Linked DNA regions of Homo sapiens: region 1 is reported to be linked to region 2. The links are microRNA targets in miRTarBase. Many come from high-throughput screens and were not tested one by one. Region 2 holds a microRNA gene; the other region holds the end of a gene's coding sequence.

The links. Region 2 holds the annotated microRNA hsa-miR-1914-5p (CCCUGUGCCCGGCCCACUUCUG, at 2,567-2,588, opposite strand). A microRNA usually pairs through its seed, bases 2 to 8, with sites in the 3' UTR of a target mRNA and lowers its output. Matches are read on the target gene's strand: a 7mer-m8 pairs with bases 2 to 8, a 7mer-A1 pairs with bases 2 to 7 and ends in A, and an 8mer does both.
Region 1: miRTarBase lists ERF as a target of hsa-miR-1914-5p. The part of its 3' UTR that is shown has no 7-base or 8-base seed match.

What each region holds. Positions count from the first base shown.
Region 1 is chr19:42,244,819-42,249,193 of GRCh38, reverse strand. It overlaps ERF (ETS2 repressor factor), which reads left to right. Exons shown (of 4, transcript NM_006494.4): 4 at 1-1,625. The coding sequence ends at 729. Among named protein-coding and RNA genes, the nearest start is that of GSK3A, 4.4 kb to the right of the region's middle. RefSeq lists a silencer at 1,743-2,037.
Region 2 is chr20:63,938,945-63,943,319 of GRCh38, forward strand. MIR1914 (microRNA 1914) reads right to left here and starts at 2,600; the gene lies at 2,521-2,600. It overlaps UCKL1 (uridine-cytidine kinase 1 like 1), which reads right to left. Exons shown (of 15, transcript NM_017859.4): 9 at 2,166-2,264; 10 at 2,006-2,099; 11 at 1,850-1,912; 12 at 1,650-1,772; 13 at 1,434-1,541; 14 at 1,206-1,362; 15 at 885-1,111. The coding sequence ends at 1,032. It overlaps MIR647 (microRNA 647), which reads right to left and starts at 3,782; the gene lies at 3,687-3,782. RefSeq lists enhancers at 3,374-4,087, 4,088-4,375.

The DNA.
Region 1 (4,375 bases), not on the chromosome of region 2:
CCTGAGGACATGAAACGGTACCTGCAGGCCCACACCCAAAGCGTCTACAACTACCACCTCAGCCCCCGCGCCTTCCTGCACTACCCTGGGCTGGTGGTGCCCCAGCCCCAGCGCCCTGACAAGTGCCCGCTGCCGCCCATGGCACCCGAGACCCCACCGGTCCCCTCCTCGGCCTCGTCATCCTCTTCTTCTTCTTCCTCCCCATTCAAGTTTAAGCTCCAGCCGCCCCCACTCGGACGCCGGCAGCGGGCAGCTGGGGAGAAGGCCGTAGCCGGTGCTGACAAGAGCGGTGGCAGTGCAGGCGGGCTGGCTGAGGGGGCAGGGGCGCTAGCCCCACCGCCCCCGCCACCACAGATCAAGGTGGAGCCCATCTCGGAAGGCGAGTCGGAGGAGGTAGAGGTGACTGACATCAGTGATGAGGATGAGGAAGACGGGGAGGTGTTCAAGACGCCCCGTGCCCCACCTGCACCCCCTAAGCCTGAGCCCGGCGAGGCACCCGGGGCATCCCAGTGCATGCCCCTCAAGCTACGCTTTAAGCGGCGCTGGAGTGAAGACTGTCGCCTCGAAGGGGGTGGGGGCCCCGCTGGGGGCTTTGAGGATGAGGGTGAGGACAAGAAGGTGCGTGGGGAGGGGCCTGGGGAGGCTGGGGGGCCCCTCACCCCAAGGCGGGTGAGCTCTGACCTCCAGCATGCCACGGCCCAGCTCTCCCTGGAGCACCGAGACTCCTGAGGGCTGTGGGCAGGGGACCTGTGTGCCCCGCACCCCCCATGCTTCTTTTGCTGCCTTAAGCCCCCTATGCCCTGGAGGTGAGGGCAGCTCTCTTGTCTCTTCCCTGCCTCCTCCCTTTTCCCTCCCCACATTTTGTATAAAACTTTAATTTCTTTTTTTTAAAAATGGTGGGGGTGGGTGGGTGCCCAGGGCTAGGGGCTATTCCCTGTCTCTGTGGGTTTCTAAGCTCTGGGCAAAGTGGTGGTAGGGGGAGGGAGGGGGAAGTTAAGGGGGTCACCTCCATTCTGGGGAATTTATATTTGAATTGAGGCTTTGGCCTTAACACCCAGGAACTTTTCTATTACAATCGCTTAGGAAGTAAAGCCTTGTCTCCCTCCCTGTTCTCTGCCTCTTGTACCCCTCTGACCCACCCGCTCTGCCCCACTCCCAGCCCTCCTCAGCCCCAGCCCTGCCTGCCCTGCCCCTCCAGGGGGCCATGAGTGCCTAGGTTTCTCATACCCCACAAGGTCACAGCAGGGGAGGGAGGGACAATTTTATAATGAACCAAAAATTCCATGTGTTGGGGGGTGGGGGGCGGAGGAGGGTGAGGGGTGCCGCCCATGGGCCACAAATCTCTACAAGTGCCTGCTATCCCTCTCCCACTCCCCACCCCAGCACCGGTCCAACCCCTTCATCCCCAGCTGCTCCTAGGACTGGCCCATGGGCAGGCGGGTGGGGGGATGGGAAGGGGGTGCCCTGAAACCAAACTGGAAGCCCCCTCTGCCTCCCAGCTGGGGCCTCTGGGGTGGGGTGGGGGGCTGTGGTCAAGCCTTATTCTGTATTGGGGACTGAGGGTGGGGGGAGTAGAGGGGCCGCTGGAGAATGTATTCAAAACAATAAAACTTTGGACCTTTGGATGCAGTGATCAATGTCCTAGGTGCTCGGTGCAGCCCCCTGAGGGCCACAGCTTTTGCTTGATTCTGAAGGAGGGGCCCCACCCTGGCTGCTAGTGGGTCTGTGGCCAGATCAGTATAGAGGGCCTAACCCTAATCAGAATGGGCCAAATCCAGGCCTGGGAAACCGTCTCCTGACCTCAGAGGCACATGAGCCCCAGAGCTTGATGATAGTGGTCTCAGGCATGCGCCGGCTTCATCAGACTGCTCCTCTGTTCCATGGGGACCTTGTCCTTGAAAGCTCTTCCCACTGTTTTTCACCACAACCCCACTGCCCTTGCTCTTCTGATTGCCTGGATGCCTTCCCACTTGTGGCTAGGAATTCTTCCCACACCCCAGGTCCCCAGTGAAGACCAGGAGCTCCCTTTTGCACTGCCCCTCGCACCCTGCCCACACCCCTCTCTTGTTGCTCTGAGTTCAGCTGGGAGTCCTTTGGAGAACAGCCTGTGGTGTCTCTTGAAATGTAGACCTTGCAAGGTAACTTGGTGATCTTCAGGTCCAGGTATGGGAACACCCCCAGCCAGCACACAGCCAAGGGACTGGCTCACTAGTCATCGATGCTGTTGACCTACTGTGTGTCCAATACTTAAGAGCTGCAGTGTTGTAGCTCCTTCAGTATCCAGTAAGGTAGGGGCAACCAGTGCTGCTAAGTGACTTGCCCAGGGCCCTGTGGCTGAGCCAGGACTTCAAAGCCCACGTTCTTTCAACAACTCCTGACTTTTCCTTCCTAACACCAAGATAGTTGGATCCAGATCAGGCTTTCAGGATCAGAGGATTTGAGATGAGCTCATAGAGCTAGAAGCTGAGATTGGAGAGCTTGAATCAGGGATGAAAGAATTAGGAGGAATAATCCAGGCTGGAAGTACCCTTAGAGACAAGTTCTGTCTCCACCATGCAGGTGAGGTGCCTGAGGCCCAGAAAGGGGAAGGGGTTTCCCCAAGGCCACACAGCTGCTAAGAGATGGAGTGGCAATTGAGGGCTTGTTGGACTGGCTTCGCCATGAAACTCCACCCTGTGCAACCCTGAGGGGGAAGAAACGTTGACTGGCAACTGCTACCCACTCGCATCTCATTTCATGCCAGCCAGGGTGGGTGGTCCCAGATGATGTCGGTTGGCAGGGAAGAGAGGATCCAGGGCTAGGATACTGGCAGGAAACCGAGGCTCCCGAGGCGGCCTGCGGGAAACTGCTCCCTCTCCTGGGTGATGTAAGTCATTCCCTGGGGTGGGGGCCACTGGGCTATTTCTGGAAGCTGGGATGAGACATGTCTCCTGGCAACATAGTTGCAGCTGAGTTGGTGGTGGTGGTGGGGTGATGGAGAAGGGGATGTTGTCACTCGGGAGGAGAGGACCCTAACTACTGGCCTCAGCCCCTGAACCCAGTGCCTTCAAAGCACCTCTAACCACATCTAATATGGAATCATAAGTGCTCAGCTCAGCTCCCTAACTGCTGTCCAGGTCAGACCACAGCCCTACCAGACAAGTTGCCCCAGATTCTGGCTGTGTAGGATGTCACAGGTGGCATTTGGCCTTGAAAACTCCAGCGGCTACTCTAACCTTTAATCGCCCACCTAAATCTATTAGCTAGCTGGCTTGAAATGTTCCTGCAAGAAGACACCCTTGGTCCCATCCATATCCTCTGAGATCCTTGCTTCCAAGTAGAAAGCCCTTTACAGATGCTCTCAAGGCACTTCACATATTAATTAATCTCATCAGAGACCTCCCTGCTTTGTACGTGTAGCCCCAGTACCTCCACAGACTCTCAAAGCCCCTTCCCAATGCTTCTCAACCATCCCTCACCCCTTCAGGTCGCTCAGAGATCCCCTTGGTCACCAGTAATTTCTGTCTCCCATAGACCTTTTTTTTTTTTCTTTTTTTTCAAAACAGAGTCTCACTCTGTTGCCCAGGGTGGAGTGCAGTGGTGCAATCTCAGCCCACTGCAACCTCAGCCTCCCAGGTTCAAGAGATTCTTGTGCCTCAGCTTCCCGAGTAGCTGGGATTACAGGCGTGGGCCACCACGCCCGGCTAATTTTTTTGTGTGTTTTTAGTAGAGATGGGGTTTCCTCCATGTTGGCCAGGCGGGTCTCGAACTTCTGACTGACCTCAAGTGATCCACGGCCTTGACCTCACAAAGTGCTGGGATTGCAAGTGTAAGCCATCGCGTCCACCCACCCATAGAACTTTTAGCAGACAGCCTAAGTCCCCTCAGGCTTCTCCACTGGTCCCCAGTAATTATCCTGTCAACTAAGCTCATCAAAGACCCCTTCACCACTCCACGGACTCCTCTTAGCCCTTCTAGACACCCATAGGCCTCTCTCAGACGTTTACAACCCTTCCTAGCATCCCTCTATGAACATTCTCATCCTCTACAAACATCCTGATAGATTGCAGACCGTCACCTTCAAACTCCCACGGACCCCAATCCCCTCGTGGCGGTTGCCCACACGCAGCGGCGCATGCCCCACGGGTTCTGGCGGTTAAATAACCCTCGCTATCCTGCCCCATGTCGCCGCCCTTTTGAGCCGTCTTGGTCCCGCGTTGGAATCCCTAGGCCAAGGGGCTCGACTGAAATTTTTACTTTTTGACTCAGAGCTGCCATCAGAGGGCAGCAGGTACCATTTGGCTGGGAAACTGCAACTCCCAGAAACGCCCGCGCCTAGCCGCGCGTGGTGCGGCCACCTGCTTTGTGAAGGGAGCGGAAGTGTTCCGCACTTTGC
Region 2 (4,375 bases):
GATCCGGCATAATCGAGGTGCCAGGCTCCGAGGACGCCACGCTTTTGGCCGTGGACTTCCACGCAGAAAGACACTGGCGCCTGAGAGGACGGGGACGACCGTGTCCCGTGTCAGATGCGCCTGGCCCACGGCTGAGTCCCCAGCATCAGCCCTCAGCTCCACGGCTGAGCCCCGGGAGGCTGATTCAGTTATCTGGGCCTCTCCGGGGCCCGACGTGTGGGCGCCGCGCGTGCACCTCCTCTTCCTCAGTAAACCACGGCGGCGACTCCTCTCGGGGAGCCCGGGGGGGGCCTGCTCGGAAAGCAGGGTGGGCAGGACCTAAGGGAACCCACGCTTGCGGGCGTGGGCACGGCAGAGAGCACGGGATGCGGGTGGGCCTCCAGGTCTGGAGGGGTGAGCGAGGCGGGCCCTGAGCAGCAGTGGCTCCGGGCTCGTGGGCCCCGGGTGGCCCCGCCTCCAAGCGCAGGCCCCCACTTCCGCCCTGGTCTGCCTCCTGGCTTTGCTGCCTCCAGCGACTTGTCCTGACGGGAAGGACCCTCCCCCCCCCCAACTGTGGGGAGGACCCTGATGGTACAAATTTGTGGGTGGGGGCAAAACAGCCTGCCTCTTGTGAGACCCAGAGCACCAGGGGGCCCTGTCCCCTCCCTAGGTCCAGGCCAGGTGGCCACCAAGCTATGGGTTCTAGGGGCCCCATCTAGCAGAGCTAGGAGCTGCAGGGCCCAGTTCTACCCCTTCCTTCATCTGGCACAAGTGCAAGACTGGGAATGCTTGGTCCTGCAGGGGAGAAGGCAGGGCCCTCAGCTCCCTCCCTCCCTCCCCATGGGAGTCTCCACAAATGCATGCCTCAGCCAGGACACCTCTCCTGTGCTGTAACCAATCACACCTTCATTTTTCTAAAGCTTTATTTATTTTATAAAATGCATAGAATAAATTATACTAGTAACATTTTAAAAATTAACATCTTTGTATTCAGCAGTCCTGGGTCAGGAGGCAGGAGGAGGGTGGTGGGGACGGGATGGCTCACTGGGCAGCTAACCCGTGTAGGCCACTTCCTCCTCGTCACTGCCATCGGGGACCGCGTCTGTCCCAAAGTAGCGGTCGCCAAAGTTCCCTGGAAAAAGGGGGGGGGGGGTCCAGTGTGGTGGGGCCTCCCAGGGCCACCCACCCTGCCCTCATGTGCGGCTGAAGGGCCCGGGCAGCCTCACCAATGCCTGGGATGATGCGGAAAAGGTCATTGACCCGCTTGTCCACCGCCGTGGTGATGATTCTCACTCGCGGAAATGCATAGGCCACTGAGTGCACGCCCATCTCTGCCATGAGCAGCGACAGCAAAAAGATCTTGTCCTCAGGCACGTCGTGGTCCTACCGAGTGTATTGGGCAGGTAAATCCCACCTCTGCCTGAACCTGCCCCGCCTACCCAGGGCTCACTCACCAGGAGCACGCGCACTGCCATCATGGCCGCCGCGCCCGTGGACACGGTGCAGTCCATGAGGATCACGTGGTCATCGCTGATGTCCTTGGGCAGCCTCAGGTAGTGGAGCTGCGGGCAGCAGGGGTCAGGCTGCAGGTGGGGCTCCCTGCGTCCCCTTGCTGTGAGCTCCCTCTGCCCCCTACCCCCGGGCTCATCACCCCGGCTGCCCCCAGGCACCTCGGGCTCCCCGGTAAGCTGGTTGGTCTGGATGAGGATGGTGCCGATGCGCACGTCTTTGCACACAGCGCGCAGCGCGGGCTCCATGGTTTCACCGGCGCGCAGAATGGACACACCGGTGATCTGCGGGGAGGGGAGGCTAAGCGCCCACATCCCGCCCCAGCAGCCTGTCCCGCGCCCAGGTGTGCCCAGGCAGGTACCTGCTTCCCCGCATAGCACTTGCCCGCATAGTCCTGCCCCTGCGGGGTCTGTACGACGCAGTCCTGTGGGGTGCAGGGTGAGGACTCCGGTGAGCGCAGGGAGCTCGCACCGGCTCCAAGACCCACCCTCCACCTCGCGGGCTACGGGCTACGAACCTGAAAGGGCAGGAAGGAGAGCGCGTGCTCGATGAGCAGCCGCATCAGTCTCTTGGAGTAGAAGATGAACTCGTCGCGACTGGTCTCCTTGTCCCTGTGGGGCCAACAGTTGAGCGGGAGCACGCGCCCGGGGCCGCCCCGTCCCCAGGTGGGCCCTCACCTGATGATGGTGTGCATGCCCCGTACCTGCGGCGTGCTCTTCAGGACGCTCAGCGTCCGGGGCAGCGGGTGGCACTGGTGTGCCGAGGCCAGCGCAGCCCTGGGGACAAACCGATGGGGAACACTCAAGAAGGGGGTCTTTTCCCAGAGCCCTCCCTCCCCACAGGACGGCTGTGCGTCACTGTGAGGGGAACACACGGGCCAGGCACAGCACGAGGTGCAGAGCGGGCCTGACTTCTGCCTGGGGCTGAGCTGGGGGGAGACGTCGCCCTACCTGAGCTGTCAGGCAAAGGCGAAAGATGGCGGCGAACAACGGGGCAAGCTCACCATCAGGCAGAAAGCTAGCGGGGTAGGCTGTGAGGGCCCCTCCCAGTGCGGGACCCCTCCTGCGCTAAGAGGAAGCAGAAGTGGGCCGGGCACAGGGCGGGCTCACACGTGCTGATAGGTGTCATACCCCAGAATGGGTAGCTTGTCCCCAGCCTCTCCCCGGGGGAACTAAAGCTTTGTGGGGTCAGGCCCCGCCCTGGCTCCTCCCCGAGGTGGTGCGCGGCCCCTCAAGAGAGGGGGGTGGGGGGCAAAGCTGGCTCAGTGTCTCTTGGCTGTCCCGTCCCGCCCCGCTGCCCAAGCCTGGGGATGGCCGGGGCAGCAGCAGGTCTAGGAGCGGGCAGGAAAAGGGCGGGGTGGAGGCAAGAAAGAGGTGGGACAGGGAGGAGGCAAAGCCGGAAAGGGGCATGACAGGGGCAGGGAATGGGGCGGGGCAGGAAAGGGGGTGATGCAGGGGCAGGAAGAGGAAAGCGACAGGCCACAGAATTGGGTGTGGCAGGGGAAGGAAAGAGGCAGGGCACGGAATTGGGTGTGGCAGGGCAGAAAAGAGGCGTGACAGCGGCAGGGAAAGGGGCGGGGCCGGGAATGGGGTGTGGCAGGGCAGAAAAGAGGCGTGACAGCGGCAGGGAAAGGGGCGGGGCCGGGAATGGGGTGTGGCAGGGCAGAAAAGAGGCGTGACAGCGGCAGGGAAAGGGGCGGGGCCGGGAATGGGGTGTGGCAGGGCAGAAAAGAGGCGTGACAGCGGCAGGGAAAGGGGCGGGGCCGGGAATGGGGTGTGGCAGGGCAGAAAAGAGGCGTGACAGCGGCAGGGAAAGGGGCGGGGCCGGGAATGGGGTGTGGCAGGGCAGAAAAGAGGCGTGACAGCGGCAGGGAAAGGGGCGGGGCCGGAAATGGGGTGTGGCAGGGCAGAAAAGAGGCGTGACAGCGGCAGGGAAAGGGGCGGGGCAGGAGCAGGAAAGAGGGCCTAGCGGGAGCAGCGGGGCAAGGGGCTACGGGAAGGCGGGTCACACAGCAGCACCACGGAGCACACTGCTCACATATCCCAACGTAGCTTCCTCTGCTTGCCAGGTGAAGAGCATGTTCAGGGAGGGAACAAGGCAGGAAACGGGGGTTTACAGAGAGAAGGAAGAGAACAAAGAGAAGGCTGCTTAGTTGGGGAGCAGGGCGTTCCCCGCAGGCCTGAGGAGGAGTGTGGGCGGTCAGGCCCCCAGCCCTGCCTGACCCTCCCTCCTGCCCCCGACCAAGGCTTCCTGGGGCTGAAGGAAGTGAGTGCAGCCACAGGCCAACACTTCCTTGGCTGACCAGACGACGGAAAATGTGTCTGGCTGCGTTCAGGTGTTTTTCCAAGTTTGAAACCCTGGAAAGTTTTTCCTCTCAGAACAAAAGCTTCAGGAGGAACCTGACGGGACAAGACCTGCGGGTTCCTAGGCCGAGGAGAGGGCCAAGCGGAGACTCATGCAGGCACCGGAAGCTGGACGGCTGGTGGACGGGCCCTGGAGGCATTTCCAACATTTGGCAAACTCTTTGGAGGGCTCTGAATGTGAGGGCTCTCCCTCCAGGTGGCTCAGTCAGGAGCCTCCCAACCCACAGAAGGCAGGGAGAAGGGCAGGTCCCTTGTGGCTGACCCCCCTGCATGCCTGCCCTTGGGGAGGGACAGTGGGATGCGGCCCCGGCCCAGCCCAAGCTTCTTGCTGCAGTTGCCCAGTTCCTGCTGGCAGAGCTGTGCGGGCTGCGAGGACAGAGCTGGGGCAAGCAGGACCCGGGTGGGTGGGAGGACAGGCGCGAGGCCCTCCACCTGCAACCAGGGAAAGCTGACTGGTCCGTGAGGCTGGGCACAGGAGGTACAGCAGGCTCCCTGGCTGCTGGGACATGTCTGTAGTCACTGCC